4 linked regions of the Homo sapiens genome follow. The protein of the gene in region 3 purifies or fractionates together with the protein of the main gene of each other region. This does not show direct contact. Each region holds a gene or a part of one and is shown on either strand. Other genes may lie near its edges.

Evidence for each region. The genes of interacting proteins can lie anywhere in the genome.
Region 1: the proteins of RNLS (region 3) and FLG purify together in Homo sapiens (pull-down; one study listed by IntAct). This does not show direct contact.
Region 2: the proteins of RNLS (region 3) and HRNR purify together in Homo sapiens (pull-down; one study listed by IntAct). This does not show direct contact.
Region 4: the proteins of RNLS (region 3) and STATH purify together in Homo sapiens (pull-down; one study listed by IntAct). This does not show direct contact.

The regions. Positions count from the first base shown.
Region 1 is NC_000001.11:152,304,953-152,308,239, forward strand, and holds part of FLG (filaggrin), read right to left. Parts: coding exon 1-3,287.
Region 2 is NC_000001.11:152,211,576-152,214,193, forward strand, and holds the end of HRNR (hornerin), read right to left. Parts: coding exon 1,501-2,618; 3' UTR 501-1,500; downstream 1-500. UniProt on the Homo sapiens protein: Component of the epidermal cornified cell envelopes.
Region 3 is NC_000010.11:88,283,602-88,286,318, forward strand, and holds the end of RNLS (renalase isoform 1 precursor), read right to left. Parts: intron 1,906-2,717; coding exon 1,753-1,905; 3' UTR 501-1,752; downstream 1-500. UniProt on the Homo sapiens protein: Catalyzes the oxidation of the less abundant 1,2-dihydro-beta-NAD(P) and 1,6-dihydro-beta-NAD(P) to form beta-NAD(P)(+). The enzyme hormone is secreted by the kidney, and circulates in blood and modulates cardiac function and systemic blood pressure.
Region 4 is NC_000004.12:69,998,966-70,003,070, reverse strand, and holds the end of STATH (statherin isoform a precursor), read right to left. Parts: intron 3,405-4,105; coding exon 3,384-3,404; intron 3,292-3,383; coding exon 3,262-3,291; intron 2,209-3,261; coding exon 2,122-2,208; 3' UTR 2,089-2,121; intron 883-2,088; 3' UTR 501-882; downstream 1-500. UniProt on the Homo sapiens protein: Salivary protein that stabilizes saliva supersaturated with calcium salts by inhibiting the precipitation of calcium phosphate salts. It also modulates hydroxyapatite crystal formation on the tooth surface.

The DNA.
Region 1 (3,287 bases), on a different chromosome or scaffold from region 3:
GTCTGCTGACTGCTGGTGGCGGGATCCGTGTCTCTCTCCTGGACTTGATCTTGCCTGTTCATGGGATGATGCAGCCTGTCCACCAGAGGAAGTCTCTGCGTGACGAGTGCCTGATTGTCTGGAGCGGTCTGCAGAGTGCCCGTGACCGGCTCTGTCTTCGTGATGGGACCTGGGGTGTCTGGAGCCGTGCCTTGACTGCTCCTGAACAGATCCACGATGGTTTCTGGAAGCAGACCCAGACCACCTCTCAGAGTCTTCTGAATGTCCCTCACTGTCACTGTCCTGGCTCACACTGGATCCCTGGCGCCTGCTTCTCCTGGACCCCTCTGATTGTCCCTGGACTGCCTGTGAGTGTCTAGAGATGTCGGCATGAGTGGAAGCTTCATGGTGACGTGACACTGAGTGCCTGGAGCTGTCTCCTGATTGTTCCTCATTACGTGTTGTTCTGCTTGCACTTCTGGATCCTGACTGCCCACGGGAGGCATCAGACCTTCCCTGGGATGTGGTGTGGCTGTGATGGGACCCTGAGTGTCCAGAGCTATCTACCGAATGCTCGTGGTGGTACCCCTGCCTTCCTCCTCTGCTTGACCCCGGGTGTCCACGAATGGTGTCCTGACCGTATTGGGATGCTGAGTGCCTGGAGCTGTCTTGTGCCTGCTCATGGCGGGATCCTTGTCTTCCTCTAGTGCTGGGCCCCGTCCATCCATGGGAGGACTCAGACTGTTCATGAGTGCTCACCTGGTAGAGGAAAGATCCTGAATGTCCAGACGTTTCCCCTGACCGGCCACGTGCGGACTCTTGGTGGCTCTGCTGATGGGACCCAGCCTGTCCGTGGGCTGACACTGACTGTGTGTCTGAGTCTTCTGAATGTCCCTCATTGTCACTGGCCTGACTACCACTGTACCCTCGGTGTCCACTGTCTCTGACTGCAGATGAAGCTTGTCCGTGCCCAATGCCTGAGTGTCTGGAGCTGTCTGCTGACTGCTGGTGGTGGGATCCATGTCTTTCTCCTGCACTTGATCTTGCCTGTTCATGGGATGATGCAGCCTGTCCACCAGAGGAAGTCTGTGTGTGACGAGTGCCTGATTGTCTGGAGCTGTCTGCAGAGTGCCCATGACCAGCTCTGTCTTCTTGATGGGACCTGGGGTGTCTGGAGCCATCTCTTAGCTGCTCCTGAGCAGATCCATGATGGTTTCTGGAAGCAGACCCAGACCACCTCTCAGAGTCTTCTGAATGTCCCTCACTGTCACTGTCCTGGCTCACACTGGATCCCTGGCGCCTGCTTCTCCTGGACCCCTCTGATTGTCCCTGGACTGCCTGTGAGTGTCTAGAGATGTCGGCATGAGTGGAAGCTTCATGGTGACGCGACCCTGAGTGCCTGGAGCCGTCTCCTGATTGTTCCTCATTACGTGTTGTTCTGCTTGCACTTCTGGATCCTGACTGCCCACGGGAGGCATCAGACCTTCCCTGGGATGTGGTGTGGCTGTGATGGGACCCTGAGTGTCCAGAGCTATCTACCGAATGCTCGTGGTGGTACCCCTGCCTTCCTCCTCTGCTTGACCCCGGGTGTCCACGAATGGTGTCCTGACCGTCTTGGGATGCTGAGTGCCTGGAGCTGTCTTGTGCCTGCTCATGGCGGGATCCTTGTCTTCCTCTAGTGCTGGGCCCCGTCCATCCATGGGAGGACTCAGACTGTTCATGAGTGCTCACCTGGTAGAGGAAAGATCCTGAATGTCCAGACGTTTCCCCTGACCGGCCACGTGCGGACTCTTGGTGGCTCTGCTGATGGGACCCAGCCTGTCCGTGGGCTGACACTGACTGTGTGTCTGAGTCTTCTGAATGTCCCTCATTGTCACTGGCCTGACTACCACTGTACCCTCGGTGTCCACTGTCTCTGACTGCAGATGAAGCTTGTCCGTGCCCAATGCCTGAGTGTCTGGAGCTGTCTGCTGACTGCTGGTGGTGGGATCCATGTCTTTCTCCTGCACTTGATCTTGCCTGTTCATGGGATGATGCAGCCTGTCCACCAGAGGAAGTCTGTGTGTGACGAGTGCCTGATTGTCTGGAGCTGTCTGCAGAGTGCCCATGACCAGCTCTGTCTTCTTGATGGGACCTGGGGTGTCTGGAGCCATCTCTTAGCTGCTCCTGAGCAGATCCATGATGGTTTCTGGAAGCAGACCCAGACCACCTCTCAGAGTCTTCTGAGTGTCCCTGACTGTCACTGTCCTGGCTAAAACTGGATCCCCAGTTCCTGCTTGTCCTGGGCCCCTCTGATTGTCCCTGGCCCACCTGCGAGTGTCCAGAGCTGTCGGCCCGAGAGGAAGCTTCATGGTGACGCGACCCTGAGTGCCTGGAGCCGTCTCCTGATTGTTCATCGTTACGAGTTTGTCTGCTTGCACTTCTGGATCCTGAGTGCCCATGGGAGGCATCAGACCTTCCCTGGGATGTGGTGTGGCTGTGATGAGACCCTGAGTGTCCAGATCTATCTACCAATTGCTCGTAGTGGGATCCCTGCCTTCCTCCACTGCTTGACCCCGGGTGTCCATGAATGGTGTCCTGACCCTCTTGGGACGTTGAGTGCCTGGAGCTGTCTCGTGCCTGCTTGTGGTGGGATCCTTGTCTTCCTCCAGTGCTGGTCCCGGTCCGTCCATGGGCGGACTCAGACTGTTCATGAGTGCTCACCTGGTAGAGGAAAGACCCTGAACGTCCAGACCTTCCTGCTGACCGGCCACGTGTGGACTCTTGGTGGCTCTGCTGATGGGGCCCAGCCTGTCCGTGGGCTGACACTGACTGTGTGTCTGAGTCTTCTGAATGTCCCTCACTGTCACTGGCCTGACTACCACTGGACCCTCGGTGTCCACTGTCTCTGACTGCAGATGAAGCTTGTCCGTGCCCAATGCCTGAGTGTCTGGAGCTGTCTGCTGACTGCTGGTGGTGGGATCCGTGTCTCTCTCCTGCACTTGATCTTGCCTGTTCATGGGATGATGCAGCCTGTCCACCAGAGGAATTCTCTGCATGATGAGTGCCTGATTGTCTGGAGCTCTCTGCAGAGTGCCCATGACCGGCTCTGTCTTCGTGATGGGACCTGGGGTGTCTGGAGCCATCTCTTGACTGCTCCTGAGCAGATCCATGATGGTTTCTGGACGCAGACCCAGACCGCCTCTCAGAATCTTCTGAGTGTCCCTCACTGTCACTGTCCTGGCTAACACTGGATCCCCGGGGCCTGCTTGTCCTGGGCCCTGATGATTGTCCCTGGCCCACCAGTGAGTGTCTAGAGCTGTCGGCCC
Region 2 (2,618 bases), on a different chromosome or scaffold from region 3:
ACATTTTTAAACTTTTTGACTCTCTTAATTAACACCTAGCTTAAAGCACGAACACATTGTATAGCTGAACACAAATATTTTTTTCTTTACATCATTATTCTGTAGGCTTTTTTCTGTTTTAAATTTTTTTAAAAAACTTTTTTTGTTAAAAATTAAAACTAACACTAAAAAGTTTTTGTTAAACCAAGACAAATATCGCCTTCTACCTCCATATGTTGTCTCCCTCTAAGGGCTTCAGGGACAATAAAATGTATGGAGCTGACAGCTCCACATTATTGTGTGTGATTTTGGTGTCATATCAAAAAAATCATTGCCAATACCAGTGTGATGGAATTTTGATCATTTTAAAATGAAGTAGTTTGTCTTATTGAGTTTTAAGAATGCTTTATCTATTCTTCATTGTGAAAAATAGAATATTGGGAAATCGCTGTTTGGTTTGGTTTCTAGGATGACCATCTGTATGTAAGAAGTGAAATGAAGCACAGATGAGAAAAGTCTTAGTATTTAATCAACATTTATTTATTGTCAATTTTAATACAATCCGGTTGTTTGAATCCAAAGACTTGAAACAAATGTGTTACAGTCAAATTAAGGAACTATGTAGCAGTGACAGATACTCTTCCTTTTCATCTGGGCATGGATGATATTTTTTCAGGTGGAAACGTTATTGAACTACAGTAGTAGGTGGAAAGCATTGTATTTCCATGGAATAACTCCTCAATATATTTCCCAATATTGAGCAGCCTCTTAGAAATAGGGAGCAAGATCTTTCTGCTGAAAACAAGCTAAAGCCCACATTTGAATGTTTTTTTTTTTCCTGAAATGATAAATCCCTATTCTTTATGAAATAATGCTCTTGCTCACTGGCTTGGGAAAAGACCCTGATGCTACTTTTTTATGCCACTAATTAACTTACTGATTAAATATATACCCAAGAAAAAGGACTTGATGGTTTTGATAAGTAAAGACACTACCGCTGCTGCATCTTTGCTTTCAGAGCCTTCACCTTCTGCCACAATACCAAAAATTGGGACACACCAAACTTGGGGCACACTAAAAATTAGGGTACACTAATTGCTGTAAAACAAAGCTTTGTATCTAGGACTGGTAATGCATTTGTAATATTTTGCTTCTAAGAAATGTAAGGTTAGCTTTGGCACCATCTATAAATGAATGATGAGCTCTCAAAAAGACAACTCCAACTAAACCCAAAGCTCTTTAAAAGCTTTTCATTATTCCTCAAAGTTTAACCCTCATTCTAACAAGTTATTCCACTCAGTATTTTCTAACAAAGTAGCACAAATGCCTAACAGTCTTTGGAAGGAACCCCATAACAAGATATATGCTACAGTTTTAGGCTCTAAAGAAAGAGACAGAAATGCATTGATTCACTTTTAGAACGAATTTCATGATGGATTGCTTGTCTTTCATGATGAATTCATAGATGACTTTCCTATTTCTTAAATTGCTACTTGAGTAAATTGCATTTATGTTTATTATTCACTGATAAAAGTAGCACCTCTGCTCTTGGACATATTCATAGGGTGAAGTGCTACTAGGAAAACTGAGAAAATATGAGCCAGAACTTCCCCCATCATGGTTACTTCCTCCTTTGCAATAAGAATACCCATCTTGCCCTGAGCCACTTCCATGCTGACTATAACCAGAGGACTGTCCTGAGCCAGACCCATGTTGGCCGTAGCTGGAAGACTGCCCTGAACCAGACCCGTGTCGGCCGTGGCTAAGAGACTGGCCAGATCCAGCCCCATGTCGGCCATAGCCAGAAGACTGACTGGAGCCAGAGCCACGGTGGCCATAGCTGGAAGACTGGCCTGTGCTAGATCCCTCCTGGTCAAAGGTTGATGACTGTCCTGATGTAGAACCATGCTGTCCTTGGCTACAGAAGTGCCCTGAGCCACTACCATGCTGACTGTAAGCAGAGGAATGTCCTGAGCCAGACTCATGTTGACCAAAGACAGAAGAGTGACCCAAGCGAGACTCATATGGGCCACGGCTGGAAGAACGACCTGAGCCAGACCCATGTTGGCCGTGGCTGGAGGAGTGCCCCAAACCGGACCCATGTCGGCCGCGGCTAGGGGACTGGCCAGATCCAGACCCTTGTCGGCCGTGGCCCGAAGACTGACGGGAGCCAGACCCATGCTGACCATAGTGGGAAGACGAACCTGAGCTAGATCCGTGTCGTTCACCCCTAGATGACTGTCCTGATCTAGAGCCGTGTTGTCCGTAGCCAGAGGAGTGACCTGAGCCAGACCCATGCTGACTGTAACTAGAGGACTGCCCTGAGCTAGACTCGTGGTGACCAAAGCCAGAAGACTCGCCTAAGCCAGACCCATGTTGGCCACTGCTGGAAGACCGACCGGAGCCAGACCCATGTCGGCCGTAGCTGGGAGACTGCCTTGACCCAGACCCACGCTGGCCGTGGCCTGGAGACTGGCCAGATCCAGAGCCCTGTCGGCCATAGCCAGAAGACTGACTTGAGCCAGAGCCATGCTGACCGTGGCTGGAAGACTGACCTGAGCTAGCTCCATGTTGGCCACAGCTCGATGACTGTCCTGATGTAGAACCATGTTGCCCATGGGTAGAGGAATGACCTGAGC
Region 3 (2,717 bases):
ATACATAGCATGGAATATGATGCACCCATAAAAAAGAATGAGATCATGTCCTTGGCAGGAACATGGATGGAGCTGGAGGCCATTATCTTTAACAAACTAATGAGGGAACAGAAAACCAAATACCACAGGTTCTCACTAACAAGAGGGAGCTAAATGATAAGAACATATGGACACATACAGGGGACAACAGAAAGTGGGGCCTACCTGAGAGTAGAGGGTGGGAGGGAGGAGAGGATCAGGAAAAATAACTAATGGGTACTAGGCTTAACTCCTGGGTGACAAAATAATCCGTACAACAAATCTCTGTCACACAAGTTTACCTATATAACAAACCTGTATATGTATCCCTACATTTAAAATTTAAAAAATATAAATAAAGACAAATGTTAGTCAAATATGGGCGAAAATAACAAAAAATCACTATTTTTCATCATTTTATAGAGACTACAAATTTCCTTCTTCCTCCCTCTGCTTTCAAAATAAGTGACATTAACCACATGTTGGCATTTAAGTTTTTCACCAATTTATTGCTAAGAGGAAACATATAATAATATGCTATAGGGTCATAAAACCCACTTTGCAGCTATAGAAGCAAGTTCTGCCTGTGCCTGTGTATGTGTATGTATGACAGTGGACATGTAAGTGTGAAACTTTAAACACTATTACAGTAAGAAGTCTTTTGTTGAACTTTTGTTAGTTTGAGAGGCTGCAATGATTTTTCTCCTTTCAAAATGCTGAAATAGAACTCATCATTTTGCTTTTCAAATTAGCAACAGGTAGCTGGTTTGGAAGGCTGGAGATTGATTTCTCTCCAGCTAGCAAGTCGTGGGGTCAGGTCACTGAAGCATGTGGGTGATATGCTGAACCACCAACTTGGCAAATATTGAACTATTTTAAGTGCATCTATTTTCTGGTTCAGTAAATTTTTTGTTGTGTTAAATTCATTAAACTCGACACAGTCTAAATGCCACAGCACATACTGGAGAACCCATAAAGTAACAGCAACAGCTATAAAATATAGCAAAAGGTAAGGATCGATATACTTTCTCTCTGTTTCTATTTAATTTTTATCTTTCATATTAGGACTGGAATTTGTTTGAAAGTTAAAAAGTACTGTGTGGCTGGGAAAATCATGTGGAATCTTATACTTTCTGAAAATCTGAAGGAAGGTCTCTTTATCAGTCAAGTTGCCCTCCACACTAAGATGATGACATATATGACCTACAATTCAGGATCACTTAATAACTTGGGGGATAAATGAGAAATAAGAATTACACTCTGTTACCTACATTTTGGAAAAATCTTGTTTTGTATAATTTGCAAAAATATTGATTCAAGGACACATCCGAAGACTTAAGATGGGGCTTTGATAATGTGATTATTCTTTATTCAGAATTGAAATTTTCATAAGGATAATCAAGTTTTTGGCACACAAACTGTTATTGTGATTTAATGTAATTTTTTTGAGAGAGTCGTTTGTTATTTTTTAAGTACCACTTTTCCTCCAACAAGGAGTAGTCATAGCAATTCAGAAAAGTAGGGAAGGTGCAAGGTGTGAGGAATTTCCATTCTAGCATGGGTTGTAACTATCAAAATTACAAAATTGATTTTATACTCCACATGAAAAATGATAATAAGTGAAGAACAATTTTCCAGTAATTTTTCTTAGCAAAATAGAAAACAAAATAATCAATAACAGAAAATTGTGAAAATAAAAACCCAATACACATGTAGAGAATAAGGATATAGGCACTAAATATAATTCTTTAAAGCTTCCAGAACACATAGGGCAGAAGTGATGCAGCCATCAAAGTTGGACTGAGTAAATCCATCCCCTCCACATGCAAGGAAAGGTTTGTGATGCAGAGTCATTTGGCCAGGACAGTTGGCAGCAGCATTTGTAACCTGAAAAAGTAAAAAGAGGATTGCAATTGACATTCTGTGCTCTATTGTGCTGTCATGGCAACACCCACCTGGAAAAGGTTAGTCTACCTGGAGAAATCAAGATTTCTCACAAGAAGCACCAAACAAACAAAAAAAATGCACACACAAGAAACAAAAAACAAACCAAGACTCACTAAACGCCCCTCAACCCCAGTTCAAGTGTTTATATTTATATTCTTAAATGTTTAAATTTTCAGTTATTAGATAAGGTAATCAGAAGTGGGCTGAACTTCAAAATTAGTAGGGGCTATAGTCTGAAGGTTTATCCCCCTGAAATTCATATGTTGAAGTCCTAACCCCCGAGGTGATGATATTAGAAGGTGGGGCATTTTGGGAGGTGATTAGATCATGGGCAAACTCCTCATGAATGGAATCAGCTCCTTATAAAACAGGCCCAAGGAAGCTTGTTGGTCCTTTCCACCATGTGAGGACACAGCCAGAGGTGCCATCTATGAGAATGAGGGCTCTCACCAGACACTGGATCTGCCAGTGCCTTGATCTTGCTCTTCCCAGACCCCAGAACTGCCAGAAAGAAATTTCTGTTTATCAGCCACCCACTCTATGGTATTTTGCTATAGCAGCCCAAATTGACCAATACATCCTTCTTCAGTTTCTCTCCACTACTCCTCATCCCATGGTTCCTTCTTCCTCACATATTTCCTGAGCGCTGTTCTGGCCCAGGCTCCATGCTGAACATTGGAGCAGGAGAATTTTAAAATTTCACAACCTTGTCCTTAAGGAAATTTCAGTCCTGAGAGTAGACTGACCCCAAA
Region 4 (4,105 bases), on a different chromosome or scaffold from region 3:
TCACTATGTCAGAGAGTCTCTTGTTGACTATCCTGTTTAAATTTGTTTCTGTGCCCTAGACATGCTTATACTTCTTTAGCACACTTATCATTGCCTAAGATATGTACTATTTATTTACTTTGTATCTGCATCTCCCAACTACAATGTAAACTCTCCAAAGACAGGACTTTTGTCTCTCTTTGTCTGCAGCATCTAGAAGAGGACCTGACAGCTGGGGTCATTCAATAAATATTTCTTGAATAAAAGTCATTGCTGAAAAACTAATGGAGGGCATTAGATGGTTTACATGCAGAGTGCCTACATACTGCTGTAGAGTGACATGGTGGTTATCTTCTGACCTACAGGGACTGAGATAAAAAATGTGAGTGCTTTGGAGGCTTAGCAACTGTGGTGTGGCAAAGGAAACCATGGGCAAATCAAATCTTGGCATAAATAGCTCTAATAATAAGTGAGTTTGAGTACCATGTTTGTAACATATAAAATATGACAGACTAAATTATAAATAAGGACCTCTGACATTATGGGCTTCAATCTGTGCTAGTCAAACTGGGAAAGAAGATGATGAAAGAAATCATTATTCCTATAAATAGAAAAGAGAAAAATAAGGAGCATACATGTAAAAATGTGCTTGAAATTTATTGCTTTTAGAGAAGTGATTTCTATTATTCAGAAACAGTACTGAACACAGCTTAACAGTTTAAATTGCAATTATATCATCAAGTGACAATTGAAAAGGCAAGTATCCTGAAACAAAGAGTATACAGTAAATTATAGTGTTTTTCATTTGCATTGCTCTTTGATGATTCTTCAAAAAGTGGTAGTAGTGTGATATGGTATGAAAGATGAGAATATGGATGTAGAAGTCGTATTTGCCAATCAAGCCTGCACAGAAAAAAAAAAATAACAGATTATCTGTAAAATTTTTACCCCTGTAAACACATTTATATTCTGGCCTGGTACAGAGTAGATATTATATACAATTATAGTTTATAAAATGCAGGGCCCAAAATAATATTTGACACAGAGTAGACAATTAAACAATTATTAAATTGGTTCCTGAATAAATAAAAATTATCATTCAGCATCTACAATTTAAATTATTTTTCAATCATCATACTATTTTATTCTTCTACTTAAATATAGCCTACACATTTCATTTATATGCATTTCCTCTAAATAATATTTCAATACATCTTTTCTTGATTAAATGTCATCAGCTATTACCTAAAACCTAGGGGATCAAGTTCAGGCTCTTCCCTGTATCACTAATGGCAATAGAGAATTGAATTGGAATATAATCTCCCAAATGCACTGAAAAATAATTGAAATCCTTTGGACTATTTTAACTTTGTAGAACAATCCTCCCTTATCTCCAAGAGTTTGCTCTATTTTGTTTTGAAATATTATTTTTTCATAGAATTTAGAACATTTAATGTTGTGTAGAGATAGGTAAAACTGACTTTCTAAAAAGAAATTGATAACATTTCCATATTTTCTTGTTAGCATTATGTTAATAATTTCTATAGTAATTGCTCAGTAGAGTTACTTAGGGTACAAAATGCAAATTTCTCACAAGTTCCCAGATGGTTCCCAGATGGAAGCTTCTCCAAAGATTGCATTTTGGGAGTGAAAACTTTAAGCAACACCTAGGTACAGATTTAGTGGCAGGGAAGCCCTGCAGTTATAACTACAAACCTTTCTGATCAAGAGATTTTATGTGATATGTCTTTCAAAAGTGTCACCAATTCTAAAAAGCACATTTAAGTGTTATCATAATACACAATTTTTTGACGAGAAAACTGAGGTTCAGGAGCATTAGGAGTAGTTCAAAGTCATGAAACTAGTAGTTGTCAGGGCCAGCATACAAACCCTGGTGTCCCCCACTCTATAACACTGCCTTCTAACCATAGCAGGACAGAGACTATCTCAGAAGCATTTATATAAATTAATACATTTCAAGGAGCTATACAGCTGGCTGCTTTCTTATACTGGAACTGCTGTTGGTTTAATGTCTTGTTTTTGTTTTTCTTCTTTTAACTGTCAGCACTGATACAGAAAGTAAAAAAAATGTCACTAAACCCATCTTACCTCAATAATCATGTCCTGCAGTTACTGATGATATTAAAAGGTATATTGTTGGTATTGTGGTTGGTATGGTTGTGGGTATAGTGGTTGTTCTGGAACTGGCTGATAAGGGCCATACCCATACTGTATACACACAAGGAGAAAGAAAATTGCAGAAAATTGAGATAATGACAGTGCAAGCGTTTTTATTAGAAGCTTAGATTGTTAAAGTTTTAGGAACTTACATATTACTTATAAGATTTTTTTCCAAACTTTCAATTAGATTTTTCTTTTTGGTTATAAACACATTTTAAAAGCAGGTAAAAATGATTGAGTGTTTACCTTTGTACTGCATGTTCACAGTTTTGTGGTTTTATTTCACATGCAGGAACACCGATTATAGGCTATCACTCCAAAGAGGTTTTAAATTTTCTTCAAAATACTACCTCCCAGCAACCATTTTGCCCACCTTTGAGTATTATGGGAAGGAGACATTTACTAAATTCAGCTTATGTGGTGTTTCTTCAAGTCACTCTTTTAATGAGCTTACTGTCTCTTACGATTCCTACATTCCTTAATACTTCTTCCTTCTGTTAACACAAATAACCATCATCCCTTTTAGAGTATCTTTTTATTTGGTGTTATTTTAATCCATGTATTCACTATATTAGTTAGGGGATCTTTTGCAACCCTATCACATTGACATTATATGTCAACATACTGGGACATCAAGATACATACATTAAGAAAAATGTTAAATAAATGAAATTTGCTATCTCATTTATCATGACCTGTTTAATTTAATGAGTTTATCACCGTCAAAAAAAATCAGAAGGTGCAAACTTACCATATTTTATGTGTAATTATCAGCCTTTATGCTCCATGAGGCATATATTATAATTAACAGAATTAGAATTTCAACTATTTTTTAGGTCAAAGTGATTACTTAGGAGATGATACTTGAGGGCTCAGGGAGTAACTGGTTTCTTCAGGTTGGCACTATGAGTTTCAACTTAAATGTTGTTAGGACACAATACATTTGTGACTGTTACCTGTGTATCATAAATAGAGGAAAACAAAGCACACTTTTGCAACTACTACACATATTTGAGAAATAAGTATTGGTTCTTCTAGAAGAATAAGTAATCAGAGAACACAATTTATTTGGACTACACAGCATTATCAGAGAACACTTACACCGAATCTTCCAATTCTACGCAAAAATTTCTGTGAAAAATGAAGAAAAGTTTAATAATTCAATACAAATGTAGGGAGGACAAAACTGAAAACAAGTTTTCCAGTGAATGAAAATGACTCACCTCTTCAGATGAATCAGCTCCCTTAGAAAACAGAAAATTAGACAATAGTTAGTATCTTAATGTTATAATTCCAGATTGAGTACAAAAATGAACTCAGCAGCTACAGTTGTGAGTAAACAGGATGTAGGCAAATCATCGATAGACACTAAATTAGTTATTTTTGCTTCATGACATCTTTAAAATGAGTTAAGAGTATGCTTTTCTGTAATTAGTGTGCTATATTCAAATATAAATTTATTTGGATTTATACTTGTTTTGTGTGTAAAAGGGAGTAAATGGTTATCATTGGTGAATGAAAAGTGAAACTTTGTATTTTTTCATAAGAATATGTTTTCAGCAGCTCAAAGGCTACTTACACATAACTTTTATTTACTGACAGAGACAAGCATTATGTTTTTCTCTGTTTTCCTTACATTTTTATTTTTTATTTTTTAGACACCTATCCTTTTATAACAAATAATGTGGTATACTGTGATTTTATAATCAAATTAGTTTTTGAAATATCTGTTAGAATTTACCAGGTAAGTTGAACTATTTTTATTCTTTCATGGCCAGTTTCCTACTAATGTCATAGAAAAGGGACAGGAGAAATAGAAGGAAGTAGAGTAGAAGAAAGAGCTCCAGAGAAGTCAAGTGCTTTACCTAGTGATACATAGTAGTAAATGACAATAAAAGCTGGGAACTCATAACATGTCATAGATCTGAAGTTTTGTTTTATAGTT